Regions from separate parts of the Homo sapiens genome. Here region 2 is linked to region 1. The links come from fine-mapping of genetic effects on gene expression. A gene starts in region 1. The other region holds a variant in brackets. All regions are shown on one strand. Distances are from middle to middle.

Region 1 (12,315 bases):
GATTGAAGAAGAGAAATGACAACATCTCCCTTTTACTTATCCAAGCTGTGAATTTAAAATACCTTTCGTTTTTGTTTGTTTGTGCCTATCAACTTTGACCCATAGCTCCCAGAATAATTTTGATATTTTCTGAATAAATTGACACTAGACTTTATACATCACTCATGTCTTTATTTAGGGTAGGCCACTGTCCTCTAATTCCATACTGATTCTTCTGGGTACTCTGGTGAGCCACTCAAAAAACAATTTCTGCCAAACCTTTGGGAAAGTATCAGTGGTTTGGTGGCCAAATTCCTCATCAAATAGTGCAAACTGGTTTCCTCCAAGCTGTGACTTCTGCAGAGACAGAAATGTCCTTGTTAAGTAACACTGTCCTCAAATTTTCTATGTGTATCATAGCCTACTTCCTCCTGAATACTACCTTTCTCCAAATCAAGACTCAAAATAATATGTTTTCTTTTTAATTTCTATCCTAAATCCCATATAGAAGGAAGGATGCAAGACGTGGTCTCCATGGGAGACAGAGTATAATCACCAACTAGGTCCAAAAGAAAAGCAAAGTCGTGTCCTGGGTTCCTTTTTCCAAGTTCCGAGTTGTGGGAAGATGGGTTGTGGCAGCTCCGGGAGCAGACACATAGGATTTCCTCCTTCCTCAGCTCTCAGGAGGGCCGCTGGATCCAAGGCAGGGGTCAGGTATTTCCGAGATGAAGTGAACTGAATAGGGCGGCTACCCGAAAGGCAGTCCTCAGCATTATTCCAGGAAACATCAGGGCAGAACCTGAAAGAGGAAAAGAAGTACACAGCTGAAAGTTAGGGTGTGTTTAACGTAGTGAGTGGAACCTCACCGCCCACGTGTCATCCCCTCCAGGAAATGCCATTTCCTCTTCCAGGAAACAAAGGTGTGGAGAACTTCTGAGAGCAGCCACGTTTATATAACTAAGAGACAGTGTCTAATAGAAAACAGAAACACCCCATGGCCTGGGAAAGGAGATGGCGGGTCTACAGGATGCTGGCATCAAGAATATCTAGAGGTGTCCACTACACCTAATGGATACCAAGAACAGATGTGAATTTTTTGTTTTAGATGAAATTTTACGATAAAAAAATCCCAATTTTGTAGATATATGATGGATGTTGTTTTAAAAGATCTGATCTTCAGGTTAACGGGTTTCCTGTTGTAGGACTATACGATTATAGGACAATTGAGTAGCCAAGAGTCCTCAAAGATCAGTTGTCCAAAAGAGAAAGAAAGAGAAAACTGAGTGTACGATGTAAGAATGGAGAATTGGCTGGGCGCAGTGGCTTATGCCTGTAATCCCAGCACTTTCGGAGGCTGAGGTGGGCGGATCACCTGATGTCAGGAGTTCGAGACCACCCTGGCCAACATGGTGAAACCCGTCTCTACTAACAATACAAAAATTAACTGAGCATGGTGGCAGGCACATGCCTGTAATCCCAGCTACTCAGGAGGCTGAGGCAGGAAGAATCACTTGAATCCAGAAGGCAGAGGTTGCAGTGAGCCAAGATTGTGCCACTGCACTCCAGCCTGGGTGACAGAACAAGACTCCATCTCAAAAAAAAAAAAAAAAAAGGAGAATTAATTATTCAGCAGCTCTTGAGATGGTGGCTCCAGCCTGACCTGGGTTTGAATCTTGGTTCTGGTACTTTAGTAATTGTGGGATCTTGAGCGAGGTACATAACCTTTCTAAGCCTTGTTAGTCTCTTCTGTTAAAGAGAGATGATAATGATGATGATACATATCACATCAGATTATGAATATTATATGAGTAGTGCGTCTAAAGTCATCACAGGCTGGGCATGGTGGCTCACCCCGATAATCCCAGCATTTTGGGAAGCTGAGGTAGGAGCATCACTTGAGCCCAGGAGTTTTAAACCAGCCTGGGCAACATAGTGAGACCCCGTCTCTACAAAAAAATCTTTTTAAATATTAGCTTGGTCATGGTGATGTGTGCCTGTAGTCCCAGCTATTTGGGAGGCTGAGGTGAGAGGATAACTTGAGTCCTGGGGGATCAAAACTGCAGTGAGCTATGATCACGCCGCTGCACTCCATCCTGGGCAACACAGCAAGACTCTGTCTCAAAAAGAAAAAAAAAAGTCCTTATCATACCTGGTGTATATATGAAACTTTTTCTAAAGCCACTAACTACTGATTAAATTAACAGGACATATGAGCTTCCTTTCAGTGCCTAATTGTCAATGAGAAACCCAGATATGGAGCGTGAGGAATCTACCATCTTCTAGGCACAGTAGCTGTTATCCGTTTGCCATTTCTTCTTTGCACTGTAACAGGATCCGCTGAAAAACAATTGGAGAAAGAGCCAGATGGATGGCAGTCTGAACTAGGGAAGCTTCTGTTTTGTAGTTTGCAGAAAGAATCTGCATGGGGATCACTGCTTAAGCTTTGCCTCTTTGTTTCCAGACACAGACGCACTTTCCTGCCTAATTTCCATAGCAAATACCCAATGAGCGCCTACTGTATGCCAGGTTCTGATGATGTCAGAGTGAGCCAGCACTTCCGAGGTACTGGCCACTCTCAAACCTCCTGGCTAGGATCTTCCAAGAGCTACAGCCTCTGGCCTGAGGGTCAGTCCAATGCTGTTAGATATTGACAAATGCGGGGCTAATTTTAATGGAATATAGTTTTATCCTTAAAAGGTGTGTGTGTTTTGGCTTTATTTGGGTTCATATAGATTAGGGGCATCATCATAACTCGCTTCCTAGTGCAGACCTGAGTGATTTAATCAAGTCTTGAAACACTTCGGGGCCTCAGTTTTTCATCTGCCTTCCCAACCTCTGAGGTTCTTTTTAGTTGACATCCTACATTCCCATGATCAGAAGGCTGCTAATTCAACTTTTGGCTTTTGTTAAACCTTTTTTTTTTTTGAGGCAGAGTTTTGCTGTCACCCAGACTGCAGTGCAGTGGTGAGATCTCAGCTCACTGCAACCTCCTCCTCCCAGGTTCAAACGATTCTCCTGCCTCAGCCTTCTGAGTAGCTGGGATTACTGGCACGTGCCACAACACCCAGCTAATTTTTGTATTTTTAGGAGAGACACGATTTTGCCATGTTGGCCAGGCTGGTCTCAAACTCCCAGCCTCAAGCGATCCACCCGCCTCAGCCTCCCAAAGTGCTGGCATTACAGGCATGAGCCACCGCACCTGGCCTGTTTTGTTTTGTTTTAATCGTTTTTAATGTCTCTCTCAAAACAAGAAAAGAAAAAAGGACAAAAAATTACTATTTTACTTCTCAGATTAATCTGATCTTAGTACACTACAGCAACAAAAGTCTTAATCAAGTACGTTTTAATTATTTGGTGTCATCATTGCAAGGAAACCATTCAGTAAGAATATTAGTAACCAGACATATAATTTTCTAACCTGAATGAGAAATTAGTTACATGGAGTATAGAAAAAGAAACCACCCCGTTTATCCTCCCTGTGACCATCATTAGTATTACCCGCAAGGCATAAAAAGTCCTAAAATGACACGCACGGCGGCAACATTACCTTTGCAGCTTCAAGCACAGTAAAGTTGAAAGCAGTCCCACCTTGGCAATTGTGTATAAAACGACAATGTGCAGATACAGGAAAAGTCCCAGGTCCGAAGCCACCTAGGAACGATGACCCCAGGACAGAAGTGTGCCCAAACAAATGCCTGGGGTAGGTCATTTTAAAAGGAACAATGTTTACAAGCCCTTTCTAGCGTGAAAAACAGAGAAAAGAGACCCAGCTCTTTCCACCCAATCTGCTGGAGCGCCGTTTCGTTTTCAGTTGGGCGAGAGGGAGACATGTGGCCTCTCGCCCCTTTTCCTGACTCTGAGAATGTGGCCGGAGCCGGGGCGCTCCTGCTCCGCCTCGCCGCCCTCCCGGGGCTGTCCTGGGCCCTCCGGCCGCCGCCTCCCGCTCCAGTTCGCAGCTGGGCGACAAGTGGCTGGTAAGGAGGCCAGGGGCGGGAGCCTGGGCGCGGGACCGGGGGCGCACGGCGGGGGACCGAGCGCGCGTCCCTGGCTAGAGGTGCCGGGTCCCGGGAGGCCGGGCTGGCGGGGAGGCTGGCGAGCGCCCCCTGGCGGGCACCGCCTTCTAGGCGCACCCGCAGTGCGCCGGGCCCGCCAGCCCCGCCAGCCCCGCCAGCCCCGCCAGCCCCGCCAGTCCCCGCGCAGTCCCCGCGCAGTCCCCGCGCAGTCCCAGCGCCACCGGGCAGCAGCGGCGCCGTGCTCGCTCCAGGTAGGGCCCCGCGCCCCGCGCCGCCGCCGGGAGGGAGCGGGCTGGAGGGGCCGAGACCCGTGGCGAGAAGGGCTACCCGGGCCCCTCGGAGAGCCTCCGGGAAGGGGTGAGGGCTGCCGGGTGAGCAGGCGGAGTAGGAAATGGAACCAAGCGGGCGCAAGAGCGCACCGGGAAGAATTTCCCCGCTGGGTTTCTGGGACGCAGGTCGCACGGGATGCGGGATGCTGGCGACCTTAGCCGGGTGGGGGCCGCCGGCCTGGGGGCGCTTCCTCCTTTCTTCTCCCTTTTCCTTCTCACCTGAACGAAAGGGGGCCTGCGGGGAGGGAAGAAGGTGGAAAGTTTTTGTATTCTTGGTAAAAAAAAAAAAAAAAAATGCGTGAGGAAACATGTTTTCTGGAGATGGTATCCTGTCCACAGGGGAGCATAACCCCTTTTCTGGGAATGTATTGGAGCACGGACGGGGGTGCCATTGCTCAGGCTTCTAAACAAGCCAAGTTTCTGGTCAAGGGCCTGGGGGAGGGGGAGGCAGGTCTTTGAAAGATACCAAAAAAAAAAAAAAAAGAAAAATCTGCGTGCTCATTCCTGTAGCCTCAAGTGAGGTTATTCCCCAGCTTTGAGGGCCAGGTTAACCAAGCAAAGTTTGTGCAATAAAGTATCTTTGTGGTATTGGATTTTCGAGAGCCACCGTTATCAATGGGAGAGTGACTGTTGAATGCTACAGGCGTGTGCACTCCCCCGTGGGCATGAAGAGAGGTCCACGGGCTGGCTGGATTGGGAGACTCCGGTCATTTCTGCAAGGAGAGCGCCACAGGACTGCCTTGTTCCCTGGGCTGTCCTGCCCCTGTGCGGGCTGGACGTGGTGCTATAAAAGATGATTCAGGAGTGGCACAGGCTGAGGGGGACTAGGCTGGAGAAGGTGGAGGGAAGAGGGAGCACTCCGTGCCCTCTTCCTGTCCATGGGAAATGAACCATCTGTGCCTGGTGTCCAAGTCCTTGACGTTCCAGTTGCCCTTTGAGAGCACACCTCAAGCCTGCTGAATTCTTTTAAGAACCACCTACAAGATCTGAGAAGTCCGCCCATGCTTTCTGTCAACTCCGGCCTCTTTGACCTTTTCTTTTGCCAAAGAAAATTCTAAACCACTGGGATTCGTGAGGCTCCGTGAGAGAGGCAAGAAGCCTGGAGGGTCCACTCCGTTGCTCTTTTCCCTTGGTTTGCTCCCTAGAAGCCATGGTCCCCACTGGGCCCTTCTTGCCCGAGGCTGTGTGATAGACAAGCCCTATTCCTAAGGTCCTGGGTCCCCCACCCCACCCCACACCCCGACCTTGTGAATCATCATCTTCATATTTTCCCTAACTTATCTTTGGTAACCCTTGTAAAATGGCAGGCTTACTGCGGATGCTTAATCTCTTTTAAAAGTGCTGTGTCTAGCGGGAAGAAGAGTGACATTTACTAATATGGTTGCAAATTACTTTTGAAGTTTATGCACAGCTGTTTAAAATCCCTCTGAGATCAGTGCCATTGTTTGATGCAGGTGCTTACCGCAGAAGGCTCTTGTTAGTCCCTTCCTCCTGCTGATTGAACATACATATATTTAAAGACGTGGCGTAGGGAGAGCTTCTAAAACCTGCAAAGCCAAAGCTGCACAGCTCCTGCAAGTTAGCGATCCACTCTAAGTTTTTCAGTTGTTGTTTCTGTCTTCTTGCCTCTCATGAACTTCTGTTTCTGATTTCAAGAGTAACCTGCTGGGCACCATCAGCCTTTGTTTCAGTGACCTGCGATTTTCTTCTACACTTTAAAAATGTCAATATCCAGGCAAGACTCTTGTCACCCACCATCCGCGTTGTCATGTTCATTTCCGCTACTGTCTTGTGCTGTGGTGCCTCGGGATGGCAACTGTTACTTGAGGAGCTAACTTCTACCTCTGTTCTCCTACAGACATGTCCTCATTGCGTCTTCGCTCACCATACACGGTGCAGCTCCTGGAAATTTGATTTGTTTTGCTGTCTCACTTCTCCTTCAGGCAACAAGGGGATGGTGTTCGATTATTCACACCTCAGCTCCTTCTGTAATCTCAAAGATCCCTTTCAACAATAATACTCTCTGTCTCTTGTTAACGCCAGGCATCAGAAGCCCCCTTACATAGCCGGCTTGTCACTGGTCATTTCTATAAAGTATTCTCATTCTAACACATGCTGTCTCTTCCGTGGAAAAGACTAAATTCTTCTCTGCAATGAATTAGATGTTTTAACCAAAATTCCATGTGGACTGGGTCCAGAATTTTCTTTCAAGAGTATGGGCTTGTGGTACAAGTATGTAACTTCGGGGATTCAGAAGTAGACCTACACAGACAAATCTCCTTATAACGTGTTATTTAATTATGGTATATTTGCCTTTCTGGAAATTAGGAATTAGAGTTAGTACTTCCTGTTTTTAATGCATTTGATTGATGTCTTAGAGTTGCTGATTATGTTGTTGCCCCTAAAAATGTTGCTAATGTGCTGGTTTGTTAACAAGGTTATATTTGATTTCAGGTGATTTCCTTTTTATGGAGTTCAGTCTTTAATTTTTTTCAATAATTTGCCTCAAATCATTTAAAATGATATATTGTTATATAATGAAAATCCCAGCAATATAGACGTGATTCCGTGTGTGTGTGTATGTGTGTGTGTAATCTGTAATTTAAAATAGAGAAATTAGTATTGTGACGGCATACATAGCATTAAACTCATGCTTGCTGTTTCTGTTGTTTTAACACTTTAAGCAGCTCATTTCTAAGCAGCTATGTGTTCAGCTCAGCTTTTTCATACCTATTCCAATTGTTAAGGAAGAAGTCATGAGAAACTATAGAAAAATGTGATGTTGAACCAGAGAGATGGATTAAAAGCTGTTTCCTTACAATGGTGAAAATATCTTTCATTATTTTAACATGCCAAGCATTTATACATGTCAAATTCTGATTGCTCTGTCATCTAAACACATTCTTGGGGACAAAATGAGCATCAGAGTTTTAAAATTAGGAAAGCTCACTCAAGCCCAGAATCATAGATTTTTGCTCCTGGATTAAATTAGCAAGTATTTGGCAGGACATCTTTCTGCAGGTTGCTGTAGGTTGATGTTAGCTTTTGAATTAAGCTAATAGTATTAATTATAATAATAATAATCAGCATCAACAAAACCAATGAAATATGGTTTTGAGTCTTTATTATTTAGAATTTATGTGCTGTATATCATACTCAGAATTTTATTTATATGTAAGAGGCATTACTGCTTCATTTAACCTCCAAAAGCCTTTATAAATTAGATATTATTATTATTCCAGTTTTTCAGATGAGGAAACTGAGGCTCAAGGGGTAGAGCCCCTTGTCCAGGTCTTATAACCAGTCAGTGGTAGAGTCAGGTTAGTTGGACCATCCAGATTAGTCTAACCATCAAGCATTTGCTTTAAACCGCAGTCCCAGGTGACCTACCAGTTAACTTTTTTATTGTGGTTAAAATACACATAACTTAAAATTTAACTTCTTAACTATTTTCTAGCGTACAGTTCAGTGACATTAAGTATATTCACATTGTTTTGCAACCATTGCCATCATCCATCCACAGGATTCTTCTCATCTCCTAAAACTGAAACTCTGTCCTCGTGGAACATTCGTTCCTCATCCGTCTTTCCTCTCAGCCCCTGGCAGCCACCCTTCTACTTCCTGTCTCTAAGATTCTGACTGCTCTAGGGACCTCACAGAAGCAGAATACAGTATCCATCCTTTTGTAACTGTCTTATTTCACTTAGCATAGTGTTCTCAAGCTGTATCCATGTGACAGCATTGGACAGGACTTCCTTCCTTTTTAAGTCTGAATACTATTCCATTTATGGATATACCACATTTTGCTTATCCTTGTATCTGTTGATGGTTGCTTCTATCTTTTGATTATTGTGAATAATGCTGCCGTGAAGAGGAACACGCAGATATCTGTTTGAGGTCCTGCTTTCAATTCTTTGGGGTATGTACCCAGCAGTAGAATTGTGGGGTCGTAGGGTAATTCTATGTTTAATTTTTTGAGGAACTGCCATATTGTTTTCCACAGTGGCTGGACCGTTTTACATTCCCACCAGTGGTAGAAAGGGTCCCAATTATTCCACATTCTCAGCAACGCTGTCTTTTGTTTTGTGTTTTTTGAGATGGAGTCTCGCTGTGTCGCCAGGCTGGAGTGCAGTGGCATGATCTCAGCTCACTGCAACCTCTACCTCCCAGGTTCAAGCAATTCTCCTGCCTCAGCCTCCTGAGTAGCTGGGACTATAGGCACGCGCTGCCACACCCAGCTAACTTTTGTATTTTTAGTAGAGATGGGGTTTCACCATGTTGGCCAAGATGGTCTCGATCTCTTGACCTCATGATCCACCCACCTTGGCCTCCCAAAGTGCTGAGATTACAGGCGTGAGCCACCGCACCTGGGCTTTTTTAAAAATCTTCTTTATAGTAGCCTTTCTAATTGGTGTAAGGTGCTGATAGTTAACTTTTTACCCAATCATTGAATGCCCAATGGCAGGGATCTCTGGGCTGATGCTACTCCTGAGTTCATTGTTTATTTCCTATCCCAGCTTGAGCATATACACCTTTTTCTAGTGTAGAATTAATGGAGGAAATACAACTCACACAGCACCTGAGGGACTAGGGAAGCCATGGAAAGGACAGTCCCTAAAACATAAACAGAATGTCCCGGTAGGTAGGGTTATCTCCACCTCCATGAGGAACCTTATGATTCAGAAATGAGTAGTTGTTGAGAATAAAGTGAACATGGCATCAGTGTTAATAACCCTGAATGTGTGGGACAGATGCTTTTTAGAAGATTAGTTACAGATATAATTATCTTTTGTATGTTATCAGAGCAGGACAAGTTCCCAGGACAATGGAGAGAATGGAAAGGGAAACTGCTATTGAATTCACCAGGCCTTTGTTGCAAGCCTCAGATCACACACCGTGCTGCAAAACCCACAGGGAGATGTGGTCAGGCAAATAGGAAATTATAATGAATTGTGATGAATTCATGAGATATTTGTACTATTTTGTATCAGTTTATAATGTCATGCAACTCTGTTTTATATTTGCTAGTTTCCTTTCTGTCTCTTTTTTCCTCTAGCATGAAACTCCATGAGGGCTGGCATTTTGTCCCTACATGTGTCCCCAGCCACTCTAACAGGGCCTGACACATACCAAGTTGTGAACAAATATGTGCAGAATGATTGTGTGTTTCAGTAGGGGACACACTTGGTATTATGTGCACAGCTAGATTTGGGGTGTCGCAGAGCTGTCAGTGACGGCTCAACTGAGACCTGAAGGGGAAGTGGCAGTGAGCCAGATGGGGGTTCTGGGAGGTAGGAACAGTGTTTGTAGAATGTCCCTGCAGCATGTGAGTCTGGAATCCCAGTGCAGTCCAGTCTAAGCCTTGCAGATGAGTGGAAATGAGCAGAGTAAGCATCACAGCTTCCATTTAAACCTCTGCTCCCCATCCTAATTTGCCATATGACCTTAACCAGTGAACTTCTTGGAGTGTCATTCTCTCCATTTGCAAAGTGAAGAAAATTGTGATCTCTGATAGCAGTGATGCTGCGAGAAAGGAGCATGTGCCAGTGTGTGGGCTATTGCTGGGTGGAGCTGGAGGAGTCAGCTGTGCCAGATCACATAGGACCTGTAAGCAGGTGAACCATATACGTTATCCTCCAGATGGGGACTGTTTATAGAGTGAAAGAGCACGTTATTAATCACTAAGCTTGGGTAACAGGTACAAACCCAGATTGTCCTGGGCAGACTGTCCCGTAGAGTTGTCCTGCGTTAAGTCATACGAAGGAGTTTGATCCTTTTCTAAGAACAGGAGGAACCCTTTAAATGCTTTATCTACCAATGTATACAAGTGCCATTCAGGTTCTCTCCAGCGTTTCAGAGAGTTTTACCTGCCCATGAACTCACAGCACTCGGCTTGCACTGCAAACTCACCTATACGTTGGCAGCTGTCTCCTCACTGGGCACTTAATTCATGAACAACTAGGAGGGAAAGACAACAAGACAGCCAGGGGTCTGCTCTTTGGCTCTTTGCATTTTTTTTTACGGGGTCTTGCTCTGTCGCCCAGGCTGGAGTGCAGTGGCACGATCTCAGCTCACAGCAGCCTCCGCCTCTGAGGCTCAAGGGATCCTCCGGCCTCAGCCTCCTGAGTAGCTGGGACTACAGTTGCATGCCACCATGGCCTGGCTAGTTTGTGCACTTTGTAGAGATGGTGTTTTGTCATGTTGCCCAGGCTAGTCTCTAACTCCTGGGCTCAAGTGATCTGCCCGCCTTGGCCTCCCAGAGTGCTGAGATTAAAGACATGAGCCACCACACCTGGCCTAGCTCTTTTCGCCTTTAACTGGAGTGTTAGCTGATATCAAGAACACATCTTTTGGGTTTTTCTTTTTTTAACCTTGTAACACCTAAAGGACTGCGGCTAAGTGTTAAAAGAAAAAAATTTCTATCTGGTGGTTTAAATATCTGCAGAAGCAGAATCCTTGTCATCCTGAAATTTTTTCCCTGTGGGCAAGAATTCCTAATAAGCGTACAATCTATTGGAAAAATCAAAAAGTAAACAAACTATGGCAATATATTCTAACATGTATTGACTTGTCACTATCGGCCGTTTGCTGTGCTAAGCACTATATGTAGATGATTGCTTGGGTGCTTTGAGAACATGTAGAAGGGAACCAAGTCCTGATTCGGAGGTTCAGGAAAGGCTTTCAGAGGACAAGGTATCGCGGGTGGGGATGGAAGATGTATGGGAATTAGCCAAAAGGACAGGGGTTCAGAGGTGAGCCAAGTCTGTCCTGAAAGTAAGCAGAAATGTTGTTGTTCTTGTCGTTTTGAGAGAAGTTCATCTCAGCTGTGTTCAGCATTTTTAGGGCATAAGCTTCAACATTTTCCGTTCTGTTTTCACTGATATGTTTTAGCTATACAAAAGCAGGCCTTCTACACAGTTTTTCAAACTCCAAGACACAGTCTACTAGTGGGCAATGACATTAATTTTGGGGGTGATAACAAGCATGAAATAGAATAAAACAGAAAATATTAAGATGCATTTCATGTAGGAAGGGTAATTATTTCATGAAACTGTATCATTTGGTTTGGGACACATTAAATCTGTTCGTACCTAAAAGAAGACATTCATGCAGCCAACAAACATGGAAAAAAAACCCTCAATATCACTGATCATTAGAGAAATGCAAATCAAAACCACAATCAGTTACCATCTCCTGCAAGTCAGAATGGTGATTATTAAAAAATCAAGAAACAACAGGTGCTGGCAAAGTTGCAGAGAAATAGGAACGCTTTTACACTCTTGGTGGTGGGAATGTAAATTAGTCCAACCATTGTGGAAGATGGTGTGGCAATTCCTCAAAGATCTAGAACCAGAAATACCGTTTGACTCAGCACTCCTGTTACTGGGCATATATCCAAAGGAATATAAACCATTCTGTTATAAAGATACATGCACACGTATGTTCATTACAGCACTATTCACAATAGCAAAGACATGGCATCAACCCAAATGCCCACCAATGGTAGTCTGGATTAAGAAAATGTACATACACACCATAGAATACTATGTAGCCATAAAAAGGAATGAGATCCCTGTCCTTTGCAGGGACATGGATAGAGCTGGAAGCCATCATCCTCAGCAAACTAACACAGGAGCAGAAAACTGGACACCTTATGTTCTCACTTATAAGTGGGAGCTGAATAATGAGAACATGTGGACACAGGGAGGGGAACAACACACACTGGGGCCTGTCGGGAGGTGGGATTGGAGGGAGGGAGAGCATTAGGAAAAGTAGCTAATGCATGTGGGGCTTAATACCTAGGTGATGGGATGATAGGTGCAGCAAACCACCATGGCACGTTTACCCATGTAACAAACCTGCACGTCCTGCACCTGTATCCCAGAACTTAAAATAAAAATAAAAATTAAAGAAAATTACATACCTATGGCATTTAGTTTTCTATACCATTCCTTTAAGTCATAGAATCAGATGAGCTCAGGGGCTAGAAGGAA
Region 2 (16,660 bases), 89 kb after region 1:
TCTGGCTCTCAGCATCCTAGCCTATTAAGGGATACTCTTCCCTTTAGGCTACTGCAGAAACTGTTAAAGCACAGCTCCTGTGTAACCAGGGTATCCACATGCCAGATCGACTTGGCGGGTTTTCATCAGCCTGCTTTCGTCTAATCACTTGAACCTCCTTTCTCTCTAATCATGGATGTCACTCAGGAATCGGTCCTGCATGTGAGACTTTGTTGGTTGCAAATATTCTCAGATGCTCAGAAAGAGGAAATAAAATGTTACAGATGTCTTTGTTCGTCTGTAGTGAGCTCAGCGAGGCCATGAATTTTTAAATCTAGCACAGGGAAACGTGCTACGAAGAGTCTGTGATGCATGCATTTTCATTCATGCATTTTAATCTCTATATGTTTGGAAAATACAAGGATGATAAATCAGCCAGTTCTCATTTATTTAATTATCAAACTTTTTAAAACGCAGCTTCAAATGAAAAACACTCTGTTAATACTCTTGGCAAATGATACAACAGGGCTGCTGATCAGAAACTGCTCTGTGATCTTAGGGGGTTATGAGATCTCATCCATCTCTTAAATGCTGTTGGTGCTGATGTTGATGCCAACATTGAAATAAATCAGCGTGTGCTTTATTACAGGGGCCTGAACAAACAGGGCTACCAGTGCCGACGTAAGTAAGAGGGTTTTGGTTGCATTACCATCATTCTTTTTATTTAGTTATTCCTTAGGCTATGAAAATCTTAAGCTGTGATTTTTTTCTTCTTTTCAGAATGCAATGCAGCAATTCACAAGAAGTGTATTGATAAAGTTATAGCAAAGTGCACAGGATCAGCTATCAATAGCCGAGAAACCATGGTGAGTATTTACACTCCTCTTTGACGTGCAGTGATTTTTATCAGAACGTTAAATGTTACAGCCCACGAATTCTTCAGAATAATGCCAGAACTTGCATCCTCCCATTTATCAGTGAACATCCATCTCCCCAAAACTCTTTCCTCTTCAATAATGATTCTTACTGAATTACCCAAACCAGAGGATGAATTAGAAATTAGCCAGGCCTGGTGGCATAAGCCTGTAATCCCAGCTACTCAGGAGGTTGAGGCAGGAGAATCTCTTGAATTCGGGAGGCGGAGGTTGCAGTGAACCAGGACCATGCCACCGCACTCCAGTCTGGGCAACAGAGTGAGACTCCATCTCAAAAAGAAAAGAAAAAAAAAAAAGAAATCTGCACTTGTACCTCCTAAATATACACAAATTATATACAGGAAGAATTTTCATTGCTCTACTTTTCCAGAAAAATGGCATAGAAAGTGGCCAGAAAGCATAGTTTAGATTAATTATATGAGAATAATCCTTGTGGCACCCCCAGCTAGAAGTGACAGTAAAAGAGTAAATAAAGGCAAATGATGATAAGATACAGCAACATGGCATTTACAAGGTTAGAGATAATAACAGAGGCATAATTTTATGTTGAGAAGCAAATATTTCTTTTAGAGTAAACGTTGAGGTATAATCGGAAGACAAATTACATTTTACCTAATGGAGGGGGGAAACTGGGCTAGCACATGGGCAGTGTATCATTATGAATTTTAAATTTTTAAAAATTTATATGTATTTAGGAGGTACAAGTGCAGATTTCTTTTTTCAATTTTTTTTTTTTTTTTTTTTTTTTTGAGATGGAATCTTACTCTGTTTACCCAGGCTGGAGTGCAGTGGTGTCATCTTGGTTCACTGCAACTTCCACCTTCCAGGATCAAGAGATTCTCCTGCCTCAGCCTCCTGAGTAGCTGGGATTACGGGCATATGCCACCACGCCTGGCTAATTTTCGTATTTTTAGTAGAGATGCGGTTTCACCATGTTGGCCAGGCTGGTCTCAAACTCCTGACCTCAGGTGATTCACCTGTCTTGGCCTTCCAAAGTGCTGGGATTATAGGCATGAGCCACCACACCTGGCCTACAAGTACAGATTTCTTCTATGCCTATATTACCTGGTGGGGAAGTCTGGGCTTCTAGTGAACCCACCATCCGAAGAGTGAATATTACACCCAATAGGTAATTTTCAATCCTCCCTCCCTCCCATCCTGCCATCTGTAGTCTCCAATGTCTATTACTCCACTCTGTCACTCATTATGAAATCTTTTGACTTCCTTCTCCCACCGTTTCCTTTTTCATTCCACAAATCCTCACTGGGTATCTGATTCATGGAAGATACCGCATTCTTCCAATGACAGCATAACACAAAACAGACGTGGTCCTGCGAAGTTGGAGAAACAGATAATAAACAGCTATGTATGGCTTCGATTTATATTAAGTGCTACAAAGATAGTGAACAAGGTGCAAGGTGGAGAGTAAGCATGTGGCCTACTGAGACTCTGTGGTCCGGGAATCTCCCCAACGGAGGGAACATTGAAACTGACAGCTGAAGAGTGACAGAGCTGGTTAGGTGAAGAGCAGGAGGAAGGAAGCTCCTTACAGGCTGGAAGACCCTGCTGAGGGAGAGTCCAATGTGTTCCAGGAACTGAAATGGGACCAGTGTGGTGACAGCTGCAAGGGCTGCGCAGACTGGAAGCCCACACTGGGGAAGGCACCAAGGCCTGGGTCATGCGGGGTTTCTTTGGAGCCTGGAAAAATGATTGTATTTTGTGCAACTTGTAGTAGAAAGCCCACTTTGGGATGCTGTAGTAGAAATAGTGCGTTGAGATGTGAAAGTGAAACCAGAGGAGATGGAAGGAATCCTCCAAGCGGGGAGGTTGGTGGTTTATACCAGTGAGACGTCAGCAGAGGTGGAGCAAAGGGGCAGGTTCTCAGGTGATTTTGATGTTAGAAATGACTGGATTTGCCAAAAGATTAGATGAAAGAGGTGGATATAAGGATGATGCCGCAGGTTCTGGCTTCTGCCCGAGGCCGAGCAGTGTGGTAGATAACAGAGCCACGACGGAGTGAAGAAGACTGGAAGGAGAGATGAATTTTTCCAGTTTGGACATGTTGAGTCGGAGAGGTGGACATCCAAGTTGAAGCATCAAATAGACAATTTCACATGAGCTTGGAATTCCTCTGGGACAAGGGCCCAACCCTATAAATTTGACAGTGACCATCATATAGGTAGATTTTAAAGTTGCTGAAGAGATTGCCTAGTGAGGAAATAGAGAAAGTTCAGGACTGACTACAAAGGAATCTAAAATGAGATGTTAGGTAGAAGATAAAGGACAGAGATAGACATTGAGAAACTGGGCTCAGAGACCGCTCCTCCTACACCCAGAGTCTATGAAGTTACAGAAACCAGAAGAAGAAGAGGTGGGTTGTGTTCTGTGCAGTTGAGGTGTTGAAATTGAGGCCCACGTGCAGATCTTCACAGGCTTAAATCAGAGAAATGTCAGGGGCATCTTGGAGGCATTAGTCTGATTGACCTGCAGAAGGGTGACTGAGGTGATGACATGAAAACAACCTGTAAGTTGATATTATGAAGAAGGTGAACCATGAAGGAGATGATGGACAGAGAACAGTGGCTGGGAAATGAGACCCCAAGGATGGCAAGTGCTCCCGTGGCCAGGGAGAGATGGATAAAGCTGGAGAGACAGATAAACAAAACAGTCAAGTCTGTTGGCAGGAAGCGAAGAGGGCCTGAGCTCTGGTGGAGACTGGTCCCTGGAGCTTCCACAGTTTAACCGGAAGGGAGTAGGGCAAGACAGTTGCTGATGGGGATGGGTGTGGAGCTTTGGTGATGGGCACACAAAGGCGCTTCCCTTAGACTGCATGTGTCCCCCATGGAGTTTGATGGCTGGAGGAAGGAAAAGAGAAAGCAACAAGTGCCTTCGAGGAAAAAGGAAGATCTATGAGATAATTATCTTAGAGAAAGCAAGGTGACTCGTGAAAAGCAGTCAGACTGTGGAGCAGAGCTGAAAGTCCATTTGAATTTGACGGAGTCAGCCTGCTCAGGAGTATGATTTTCTCCAACAAAGGGGCAGGTTCAGAGAAGGCGAAGTGGCTGGGTTTTTCCAGAGTAGAATTTCTCCTAACATTTAGAAGCAGAAGGAGATAAACTTGTGCTAACCGGTGATTCTGCTAAGACTCAAAGAGGTTAAAGTAGTTTGTTCATGTTTGATCACCTGTACGTGGCAGAGCTGGTACTAAAATTAAGATCACAATCTCTCAGACCATGTTTTTGCTTGCTTAGATCAAATTTTCACCTCCCAGACTTCTTCCTTTACTTGATGCCTTCAGCTTTTCTAGAAAAAAACGCAAATCTCTGAATCACTGTTAACCTCAATGACTAACAAAGTTCCTGGTACAAAGTCTTGAGAAACTGTCAGCTACATAAATAAATGTCTGTGATATTATCTTCTCCCAGGATATTTTGATTTCTTGTTCACTCAAGGGGACATCATCTTTGGGATTCTTTTGTTCCTCTACCCCTGGAGCAGTATTGTCCGATAGAAATAAATAGAATGAGGGCTACATGTGTAATTTTACATTTCCAAGTAGCCCACATTAAATAAAGGAAAAAGCAATGGGTGAAATTAATTTTAATAATACATTTTATTTAATCCAATCTGTTCAAATATCATTTCAACAAAAAATCGACATTTGAAAAATTCAGATATCTTAAGTAATTTTATACAAAAGTCTTCAAACTCCAGGATGTATTATTTTACACGTCCAGCACATCTCAACTCTAACTCACCACCTTTCAAGTGTTCGCCAGCCCCATGTAGCTCATTGGTTTTCATACTGGAAAGCGTGTACATAGCGTCTTCATCAGCCATGGTGTCTTGAGCTGTTTGCCCCTGCATTCAAGATTCGAAGTGGTCCCCTTCCAGCCTGGACCTTGACCTATTAATTGTCCATATTTAAACTGTGGAATATAAGTGAGTCCCGAAAATTATTTTTTTCTTGGTTGAAAATGGCTGTAGTAAGTGCTGAGCAATTTTTAATCGATTCTACACAGGCTTTCTAAAGAACCAACGCTGACCAGTACCCCTGGCGGGAACGTTAGATCTATTGCTGTGCTGATGAATAAGGCATCTTTGCTATGCACCTTCCCAAAGGAACTGTTGAATTAGAAACTTCTGCAGAGATTATAAACCTTTAGAAAATAAAGCATTTTATCCTGCACAAGAATATTCACATTCTTACCAGGAATCCAACTATCCAAGTGTTTTGTTGTTCCTGCAATAAGTTTGATTTAAACTCTGGAAAACTGTTTTTTAAAAAAATTCCATGTCGATCACTAGCATCCCTCTCCCACTCCCCTCTCCCTACCCCGATAAGCCTTCACATTTATTTTGAGACAGAAAAGAGAATGGCTGGGCTCTGATTCTGACTGCCAAGCTTATAGATATCCCAGCTCTAGAGCTGCGTGTCCTGGGCAAGTTTCTTACCTTCTCTGTGCTTCATTTCCTCGTCTGTCAAAGGAGGATACTAATAGAAGCGACTTCAAAAGGGGTATTCTGAGGATTACGTGAGATATCACCTATGTAATAGATGATGCGTGTGACATATTTGTTAACCGCACCTGGCAGGAACTGCTCCCTCCTCTTGCCACCTCAGTTCATGAATAATAGGTGTGAAAATGCTTCTCACATTAGGCAGTAATACTGATAAACCCATAGAAATGTTTCCTTTAAAGAAGGCATTTTTTTTTTTTTTTTTTACATCTTCCAAAGGTTAAAAGCACTAGTTCTGGACTGAAAGAGAAAAGGAAATATTTATAGTAAAACAGGAAGGGAATCTTCATCTATTTAAATGGGAGCACTGTTTCCTTAGCACTTTTTAAAATAACCCTCATGCAGTCTTCCTGAGCTTTTAGCCTGTCTGTGTGAATGCCTCAGATTTCAGCTGTCTGCAAGGTTCTTGCTACATGCAGAAGGCAAGCATGCCCCGTCACGTACAGTTGCTGAGGCTGCCTGCCTTCTTCAGGCATGACTGTAGGGCTTGACAAGTGACAATGATGGTTTAAAATGCACACAATGCCAGTGTTTTCATTATGATCTCTGTTAGTTATGCTAAGGTATCTGCAAGAACATCCAAAGTCGGGGCCCCAGGAATACACAGATTTCACCTTCTGCCTTTCTTTCAGTTCCACAAGGAGAGATTCAAAATTGACATGCCACACAGATTTAAAGTCTACAATTACAAGAGCCCGACCTTCTGTGAACACTGTGGGACCCTGCTGTGGGGACTGGCACGGCAAGGACTCAAGTGTGATGGTGAGTCCAGTGGGGGATGAGCATGGCCCGACGTGGACCCCCTAGGGGATGGAGCAAGGCTTTCTGGGGAACTGGAGGGAGGATGTAGGGGGTACCACTTCCACACCCAGCCCAGACAAGTCATGATCATAAGTATGGTCTTCTGGGGCAATAAGCCACTATGTTCCTTTCCTTGCACCCTGCAACACCCCCACCCACACATCCCAGAAAAGAGCACAACAGTTCAGGTTCAAGGTCAAACTCCTAGCTCCATCACCTTCTGCCGTACCATAGCCCTGGGGGAAATGAAGACAGTGTTTCTCCTCTCACTGGTCTTTCTACTACTAGTTTCCTCAGTGGGCTCTGGGCTGCCCCTTCCTAATCCCAACAGGTCTAGCTGTGTGGTACCCTAACCCTTCTCCTTTGCACCAGCCAGTAAGATTCTTTCTGTCATCTCATCAAGGAGCAAGCCCAGCACATTCATTTGGCTGACACATGGTCCTGCACAGAAATTCTGTAACATTAGCTTGAGCATCCATCCCTAAACCATTGCTGTGAACTCCAAGTGCCCAGTAAGAGGCTGGCCCGGTTGTGACCGTCATTGCCTGTTTTCTGGTCTTTCCTCCAAGGCCAGGATCGCAGCAGAGCCTAACCTGCCATTCATTATTGATGGAGTTTCTCAGACCTACCATCAAAAAAGGAAACAAGGCAAGGCTTTCTTGCTGTACAACTCCAAGTTGCTAAGGCGATAACGTTTAGAAGCTGAGATGCTGTTACACTAGGATTAAGGACTAGGGAAGAAAAAAAAAAACCCTCAAGAACTGACAAGGCACTCTGCTTTCTGGTTGGGGAGAGACGTGGGCAGAGCCCAGAGAATAGAGCCACAAAAGGAGAACCACCTGTTGCATACAGACAGCTTCTGATTTTTTTCTTCTTCTTTTACTTTTTTTCTGAGACAGGGTCTCACTTTGTTGCCCAGACTGGAGACTGGTGTGCAGTGGCTCGATCACAGCTCACTGCAGACTTGACTTCTTGGACTCAAGCAATCCTCCCACCTCAGCCTCTCAAGTAGCTGGGACCATGGGCATGTGCTACCATGCCTGTTTTTGTTTTTTTTGTTTTTCTTTGTTTTTTTTTTTTTTTAGAGGTATGGTCTTGCTATGTTGCCCAGGCTGGTCTCAAACTCCTGGGTTCAAGCGATCTTGTCTCCTCAGCCTCCAAAAGTGCTAGGATTACAGGAGTGAGTCACCATGCCTGGTGAGCACAGACCTTTTCTTATGATGAAGTATTAAATATATAAGCCACTTTATTTTTTCTTGGCAGCCCTATTTTGATCAGTGCTACTGACTAATGTATGTCCTCTCTTTTGAGCAATGAGGTACGTGATGGAAGGCGGCACAGCATCTTCCGCATTCTCCCCTTCTTCATCCCAATCCTGTTCACATGTCTGGTGGAACCCAGAGCGACCTCTCAGTGGAGGCAGGAGGGGTTAGGTTTTCAAATCATTACCTAAAGCAGACATCACAGGAGGCCAACATTAGCCTCAAGAATCCGTTCCTGGCCCCAAAGGACACTGACACGCTTTTCTCTACACCCCTGTTCAAGAAGACATGGATAGGCAGGGTATTAAGAGTTCATTAGGAGGTCAGAGACAAAACGTAGTGTCCCGGCATCCTGCATCCTGACGGTATCCACAGAAACAGGAGAAATTCTCGCCTCTTGGTTCTCCTGTGATGGTCTCAGGTCGGGTTCTCTGTCCTGGGAGCCCGAGAATCCACTTGCAAGAAGAGCTGGTCCCAGCAGCGCCGCGGCACAGCTTAGAACTTCCCAGGGGTTCCTGGGCGTTATTTCATGGCTCTTCTGCCTGCTTCGTTTCATTTCTTTCCTTGAATACTCTTTCCTTTCCGCTCCATTCTGTTCCCCGCTCTCTCCTACCACCTACATTTCAAGTGCTCCCCTCCCCTTTTTCTTTTGTCCCCTCTCCTCTCCCTCCCCTGCCCTGGTTTGTTTTCCATTCTTGCTTCTGACACTCCCGGGTCCCTGCCCCTCCACTGTGCTCACCCCGCCTGCTCCGCTCACCCCGCATGCCCCCGCGTCCTCCTTTCTCGACTCTTCTCGCCCTCTTCTCCAGCTCTCTTCCCTCCCTCTCTGCCTCCCTTTCATCCTGCCTCCTTGCAGGCCGTCGTCTTAAGTAGGGCCTCCTTAGCCTTTTACCCTGCCTTCTCTTTCTCCCCACAATAATTCCCAAGAAAATAGTCATCCAAAGGGACTCTTTGCCCTCCAAGAAACTGAGTTACGGCCTGATAGGTTAGTAACAAAGACTTAGGACCTTCTCGTGGAGATGGTGGTGGCCTTTCTTCGCGGCCATGCAAGTCACAGAGAAGCCTAGATGTGGCTACAGTTTTAAGGAGCAAAGTAAAACTCCATCCCTCTATGTTCAATCCTAGCTGACAACCTCACTTGGTGTCA[C/G]GGTGATGCATAAGAAAATGGAGCTGGGGCTACCGAAGTTGAAACCTGACACCTTCTAAATAGGGCGAATGTGAGTTATGCGAGTTTTGCCGACAATGTGGAATTTGGAGCACAATCATGAAAAAAAAAAATCCTTTCTATAGTAAAGATTTTAGGCCGGGCACGGTAACAGACCTGTAATCCCAGCACTTTGGGAGGGCAATGCGGAAGGATGGCTTGAGCCCAGGAGTTTGAGACCAGCCTGGGCAACAAAGTGAGACCCCCATCTCTACGAAAAATAAAAAAATTAGTCGGGTGTAGTGGTGTGCACGCCTGTGGTCTCAGCTACACAAGAGGCTGAGGCAAGAGGATGGCTTGAACCCAGGGGTTTGAGGCTGCAGTGAGCTATGATTGCACCACTGCACTCCAGCCTGGGCAACAGAGCAAGACCCTGTCTCAAGAACAACAACACAACAACAAAGATTTTAAATATGCAGAAAAGATTTTGCTTCAGGTGAATTTTTCTGGCTATATCTATGCCTATATACTCGGTCTAGTAATGGTTAATAGTTGACCGGGCGCGGTGGCTCACACCTGTAATCTCAGCACTTTAGGAGACCGAGGTGGGCAGATCACTTGAGGTCAGAAGTTGGAGACCAGCCTGGCCAACATGGCGAAACCCTGTCTCTACTAAAAACAAAAATTAGCTGGGTGTGGTGATGGGCGCCTGTAATCCCAGCTACTCAGGAGGCTGAGGCAGGAGAATCTCTTGAATCCGGGAGGCCGAGGTTGCAGTGAGCCAAAATCGTGCCACTGCACTCCAGCCTGGGTGACACAGCGAGACTCCATGTCAAAAAAAAAAAAAAAAGTAATAGTTATTTACATAGAAAATTCTGCTTTATTTTATTATTGAGCTATTTGAAGAAGAGTGGACCAGTGAAAACTACAGGTGAGGGTTGCCCAAATTTCACCTAAATATTTTAATATCTACATCTATGCAATAAATGATGAAGATGAAAAGGAAGTTGTATTTGTTGAGCGCCTGCTCGATGCCAGTCATTGTGCTAAGCTTCTTTGCACACACATGTGCAAATCAGCAGATAAGATTAAGACTGCATGATGTCATAGCACCTGGTGCCTGCTTCTATTACAACACTCTCTACTCACAGACTCTGTCAGCTGGAGTTTGGAAATCTTTATATCTGATTTTTCTGTATTTTAATGGTGATGTTTCTTTTTTTTTTTTTTTTTGAGACACAGTCTCGCTCTGTCTCCCAGGCTGGAGTACAGTGGCACGATCTCAGCTCACTGCAACCTCCGCCTCCCAAGTTGAAGTGATTCTTCTGCCTCAGCCTCCTGAGTAGCTGGGATTACAGATGTGCACCACCACACCTGGCTAATTTTTATTGTTATTATTTTTAGTAGAGATGAGGTTTCACCATGTTGGCCAGGCTGCTCTCAAACTCCTGACCTCAGGTGATCTGCCCGCCTCGGCCTCCCAAAGTGCTGGGATTACAGGTGTGAGCCACCACGCCTGGCCTTTAATGGTGATGTTTCATTAGCAAAATTTGAATTTCTAAAACTAATAATTGTCTTTACACAGTCACATGGGCACACGCTCTCCAGTCCAAGAGGGATCTCTTGGTCACTGGCAATGGAAGTTAGATTCTATGCTACTGTTTTCAAGATTCATGAATCAGAATACTCACCCTGAATTGTAGGATCCCCAAGCTAGAATCCTGTATAGATCATGAGTCCAGTGCTGGAGATCCTTAATCGGGAGCCCCCAGAGCGTTCATGACTTGCCCAAGGTCACACAGTGTCCACGCTGTGCAAGCTGCCACCAGCACCCCGTTCTCCACCCACCTGACAGGTGCTCGAGTATTTCCCTCTCCTCTTTCTTTTTCTTTAACATCTTATGTGACTTATAAAGATGACAGAAAACTTTGGTTCTTTTTCTTCGAGTTACCTTTCATAACAGGTTGTAGATGTCAATTTACGCCATCAGTTCATGCGTGCAAGAAATATCACTTTCTTTATGACTGTGAGATCCACTTAGTTAACATTCTCATCTAGTAATCCTTGGGGCCCTCTACCCTTCCCATAATCACACGAGGTTTTCAGGAGGCATGGGTACAGGGGCCTGGAAACTGGGGAATGTGCTCAAACACCCGGTTGCTGTTGGCCTCCTCATCTAAGCCCACACTGGTGAAGCCTGTGGCTTTATGTTTCCACACCGTGTGTAGAGTTTGTGATTTTTTTTTCAAAGCTGAGGTCCTCATGCCTGGTCCAGTCTTGCTAGGTGTGTTCTGCCGTGACCTCTCCTGGCATTGCTAGCCTCCTCCTACTCCATCCCTTCCCACATATACACTCCGGCTCCACCGTCTGATATCCATCTGCAGGCTGAGGCTGCCTCCTGGGCTTCAACCTAAAGGCTGGGGGAAGCTCTTCATGGCCCAGGTGGGAAAGGGGATGTTTTGGACCCAGACTGGAGTGGGCAGGAATATTCTTCTGATGCAGGGCAGGTGAGCCCCAAAGTGGGGCTTAGCCCAGGAGAGTTCTTGGCTTCGCCCAGGAAGAATTCAAGGGTCGGCTGTTGGTAGAAGAAAACAGCTTCATTGGCCAACGGTATTACAGTTCTGTTGGTGTTACAGCTCCATGACTGCTCCTGCAGAGCAGGGCTACCCCAGAGGCAGAGAGTAGCAGCTCAGGGCAGTGCTGCAATCCTATTTATACCACTTTTAACTACATGCAAATTAAGTTCCTGGAAAAAGGGTGGTAACGTCTGGGTGTTGCCATGGCAACACTAAACTGACATGGCACGCAGGTGGGCATCTTCTGGAAAGCTGCTTCTGCCCTGTCCCTGTTTTAGCTAGTCTTCAATTTGGTCTGGCGTCTGAACCCCACCTCCAGAGTTGAGTCCCACCTCCTACCTCACTTCCCTTCCAGCACGAGGATCACTACCAGGGAGAGCCAGGGTCAACTTCCTCCCAGCCGTGGCACTTTAGGCTTTCCTCCCTATCCGCAAGGCTCTGTCTTACCTCCAGAGAGAGTTGTTTAGCACCAGGGGGTTCTTCCACTCTTGCTCACTATCTGCCTTCTTCCTTCCAGCATGTGGCATGAATGTGCATCATAGATGCCAGACAAAGGTGGCCAACCTTTGTGGCATAAACCAGAAGCTAATGGCTGAAGCGCTGGCCATGATTGAGAGCACTCAACAGGTAGGAGCATGTGCCGTGGACACGTTCCCGCCATGGCCGCTCAGCAAGGATGTCCATGCACTTCTGCTGCTTCACCTGTGGCAGCCCTATGGGAAATGCCGGGATGTATTTCTGAGCACCGGCCTTGCCCTTGGCTTTCATATCCATGCCCACACCCCCTATCTTTGAGATATTTATTTAATGCATTTGTATTATGCAGATCTTTATAAAATCTTAAATTCTTCATGGCATGAGCATTGCAGAAACAAATAAATTCATTAAAGTTATTGAAGATTCATTGACAGCTTTATGTGAATATATTCGGGTTATAGAATAGCCTGGGGGAAAACACTTATGTGCTAGCATCATCCTCATGGAACACCGAGTCCAGGGCAAATTTGGCCTGCTGTTTACTGTTTTGGCATTAGCTGAATTCCTAGATCCAAGGATAAACCCTCTTTAAGACTTGGCATTGCCTGTATCAGCTGTTTTCCCATCCATTAACTACCTGTCCTTATTTGTGATGGAATGATGTAGACAGCATGAGAGAATCCTGTCAGCCCCAGAAAAGTGTGAAGGAGGCAAACGTGTTCGGCTAATGCATAAAATACAGTAGATAGACTCTCCCAGAATATGGGGTTCCAAAAGAACGTTGAGGATAAGGAGATCTTTGTTGACCCTATGCATTTAAACATTTTAAATGGCCTTTGTCCCCATCGTTAGCAGGCTGAGCTGTTCCATCAATGGTGGGTGGGTGGGTGGTCTGACTCTCTGTTTGTCATCCAGGCTCGCTGCTTAAGAGATACTGAACAGATCTTCAGAGAAGGTCCGGTTGAAATTGGTCTCCCATGCTCCATCAAAAATGAAGCAAGGCCGCCATGTTTACCGACACCGGGAAAAAGAGGTAGCTGTCCTGATCAGCAGTCTAATCACTGTCAGTCATTAATCTCAATTAACCCTAACCTAATGCCCTTGGATTTAAGTTATCAGCTTACCTGGTCTGATAGGTGATCCACCTCCAGCTACCAACTAAGAGGCTCCCACTTCTTAGAAAAGAAACTAAAACCTTTTACCTTTGTAAAAGGCAGGAGGTGGGGGTTAGAAAATGGGATAGGTCTGGAGGGAACAACCACAAATGTTTTCTTAGAGTTTCAGCATGTTACATTCTGTCAGTGTCAAATGGTTTCACAGAAATAAATCTGTCTTAAAATTTGATGGTGGGAAGGCCACAGAAGACATTCTTACTCTGCACCTTTGAGACTTAAATTTAAGGGTAGGAAAGAGAAGGACTCAAAGCCACTTTCATGACATTATGGCAGTTTTTCCAGCCTACTGTTTGAAAGCAGTTCATGAGTGGATATGACCCATGTTTCTGAGACCTGAGTCGTTTCAGCATACATTCTAAAATACTTAGTGTCCTTGGAAGAGTATGAAAGATAAACCTAGGGATTTAAAAATATAGAGACTATTGTAGGCAGGGGGAAATTCCTAAAAATTTCTCTTATGTTTTCTCTGACTTCAAATCAACTTAAAAATGTAAATGAAAGGTTTGGGTTACATTTAGGAGGGGTTGCCAGGCAGTCAAGGAGACTATGTCTTAGCAATGATCAACATAGGCAGCATCTTTTTTTTTTCTTTTTTGAAGACAGAGTCTTGCTCTGTGGCCCAGGCTACAATGCAGTGGCACAATCTCAGCTCACTGTAACCTCTGCCCTGTGGGTTCAAGGGATTCTCCTGCCTCAGCTTCCCGAGTACCTGGGACTACTTGCGCACACAACCGCACCCAGCGAATTCTTTGTATTTTAGTAGAGATGGGGCTTCACCATGTCGCCCAGGCTGGCCTCAAATGCCTGAGCTCAGGCAATCCGCCCACCTCGGCCTCCCGAAGTTGTCAGATTACATGTGTGAGCCACCATACCCGGCCAACGTAGGCAGCATCTTGACTTGAATTCTGGGATGAATGATGCAGTTCAGATCTTTAAAAATCTGCTAGATTTCATTTCCTGTCTCTCTCACGCTGTAAATTGTAGAAATTGATGCCACTGTGTTTGTGAGCCATGCAAACAATTGAAAATCATTTTTTTCCTAAAATTTGGTTAAAATCCCTAGATGTCCTTGATGTGGCATTATTAACAGTGCTTGTGTATTTTGCATATATGGTCTTTTACTGATTGGAATTTGTTTCTTAAGTTGAACTATTTCCCAGTCTATTGAAGAAAGAGACATAGTCCACACTCCAAAATCCAAATGCCAGGCTCACAGACAGGGGGTGCTGCCCTCACAGACAGATGGAAAGGTATTAAAGCTGCCTGAACTGTAGGAAACCCTCTAAACACCCCCAATTACTATGATGGAGCCTCAGCATGGGAAGTAGAAGAGAAAGCATGTGCTCTCAGTAACTAGAATGACCTCCATTACTCCATGTTCATTTTTAACCACCAGCTTGCATTTTCAGAGCCTCAGGGCATTTCCTGGGAGTCTCCGTTGGATGAGGTGGATAAAATGTGCCATCTTCCAGAACCTGAACTGAACAAAGAAAGACCATCTCTGCAGATTAAACTAAAAATTGAGGATTTTATCTTGCACAAAATGTTGGGGAAAGGAAGTTTTGGCAAGGTAAGCTAATGCACGGGAGAATGCTATGGCCCAACTCCAGGAACTGATGAGCCAAGTTCCTGGTCAAAGAAATTAAACTCATAGGGCCACTAGGATTGCATGTGAGTGTCAGAGACAGCTTTCCTGAGGGAGCGCTGAATAAATAGGGACCCCGAGGGCTCTAGGCCCATAGTAGCCTCAGCTTTCTGGAAACCTGTGTCTCCAAAGCTACTTTGCTTGGAGAGTGTACATCTCACACGCCTATGAGTTTGATGTCTTTGGGCACCAAAGAAATAGGAAGGTGCCTCAGCCACTTCCTGTTTCACACGGTGTTTGTGTTTGTTTCATTTTGTTTTCTCTTCTTTTGCTTCATTCTCAAGCCTGGAGTGTTGTTTTAGTTTGCATGTGATTTTTTTCTCTCTCTATTAAATATCTTCCAGCTTGTATAAGTTTCCTTGGGGTGTGATAGGGCTCGGCTCTGTGTCCCCACCCAAATCTCACGTTGAATTGTAATAATCCCCAGGTGTCATGGGAGGGACCCAGTGGAAGGTGATTGAATCATGGGGATGGGTTTTTCTGTGCTGTTCCCATGATAGTGAGTAAGTCTCATGAGATCTGATGATTTTATAAAGAGGAGTTTCCCTACACATGCCCTCTCACCTGCCACCACGTAAGACGTCCCTTTGCTCTTCCTTTGTCTTCCACCATGATTGCGAGGCCTCCCCAGCTGTGTGGAACCGAGTCCATTAAACCTCTTTCCTTTATAAATTATCCAGTCTCGGGCATGTCTTTATTAGCAGTGTGATAACAGACTAATACAGGCTGCTATAACAAAATCTCACATACTGGCTGGCTTAAACAGCAGAAATTCATGTTCTCGCAGGTCTGGAGGATGGAAGTTCACCATCAAGGTGTTGTCTGGGTTGTTTCTTCCCAGGCCCCTCTCCATGCTTTGCAATGGTCGCCCTCTCTCCATGCCTTCATATCATCTTCCTCCTGTGCATGTCTGCATCCAAGTGTTCTCCTTTTTTGAGATGACGTCTCACTGTGTTGCCCAGGCTGGTCTTGACCTCCCGAACCCAAGTGATCCTCCTGTCTCAGCTCCCTAGTAGCTGGGATTACAGTTGTGCCACCACACTCTGCTTAAATTTTCTCTTCTTGTGAAAACACCAGTCATATTGGATTAGGACCTGCCTTAATAACCTCATCTAACCTTAATTACCTCTTTGAAGGTCCTGTCTCCAAATACAGTCACTTTCCAAGGTCCTGGGGATTGGAACTTCAGTATAGACACAATTCAGCCCATAAGAAAACTGTAGCTTGAGAGTCCTGGAAAAAAATTGTGGAGAAAGTCCCTCCTCTAAATTCTTCCTGCCATACATGCAGGTGGGGGGTTGTCTCCATCACTCACAGATGACAAGGAGAGGAAGGAAAGAGGGAGAGGAGGAGCAAAAAAAAAAAAAAGGGGAGGTGAGAAGAAGGAAGAAGAGATAATTTAAGAAATTATAACCAACTACCGGTGACTGCAGAAAATTTTCAAGCTGGTGATTTAAGGAGGGATGATATGGAATATAGGCTTTTAGGTAATTTTTGATATTAAGGGTATCTCATGTATTAACGGGGCTCCTATTTGTTTTACATTCTTGGATGGGACTCCCAGGAAAATTTTAATCAGAGATGACTGTTCTATGAATCTGTGCAGCCAAAGGCAGCATTATACACCACAACTGCTCACCAGACTTTGGCAGGATGTCTTACCCAGTTTATTTAATATTAAACAAACTAAAATGCAACTGAGCGGTCACCACAGCTGAATAATATTGAGCTCCATTTGGGGTTTGGATTTAAACACTGATGCCTTGCCTTTCAGCAGAATCGACTCTGTCCAGCACATGGTAGCTGATATTCAGGAATTCTTTTTGTTCAGTTCCACAATAATATGAACCACAGTAGGCTCATTTGGTGCTAATCTGAGCATAATAGGCAATGTTACAGCCAGTCTTCATTGTAATTTAGCAGCAATTAATGTGCAATTATAACCTGTTACCAAAAATTGAAAGCACATTATATAGATGGAAATTGTCTTTTTGGCTTCTTAGTTTATGGCTGGTTTTAGGGTGTTTTACTGAAAGAAGCAATTACTAAAAGAGGACTTTTAATTGTTAATGAAATGTTTATCTTTCTTTGTTCCCATGTGGATTTCCACATTTGAATAAGGTTAATAAGGAAGACATTAAGTTA

What was found.
Region 2: its variant is fine-mapped to the expression of PRKCQ in whole blood (TOPMed, PIP 0.97).

Annotation. Positions count from the first base shown.
Region 1 is chr10:6,572,139-6,584,453 of GRCh38, reverse strand. PRKCQ (protein kinase C theta) reads left to right here and starts at 4,178. Exons shown (of 18, transcript NM_006257.5): 1 at 4,178-4,243. PRKCQ-AS1 (PRKCQ antisense RNA 1) reads right to left here and starts at 4,029. Exons shown (of 2, transcript NR_036503.1): 1 at 3,527-4,029; 2 at 1-778. RefSeq lists enhancers at 673-967, 12,275-12,315 and silencers at 3,767-3,916, 3,927-4,176.
Region 2 is chr10:6,481,220-6,497,879 of GRCh38, reverse strand. PRKCQ (protein kinase C theta) reads left to right here. Exons shown (of 18, transcript NM_006257.5): 6 at 629-660; 7 at 760-845; 8 at 6,068-6,197; 9 at 11,736-11,845; 10 at 12,611-12,728; 11 at 14,280-14,440. LOC107984202 (a long non-coding RNA gene) reads right to left here and starts at 5,411. Exons shown (of 2, transcript XR_001747350.2): 1 at 5,370-5,411; 2 at 4,504-4,821. The variant C/G (reference allele first, on the strand shown) is at 8,646.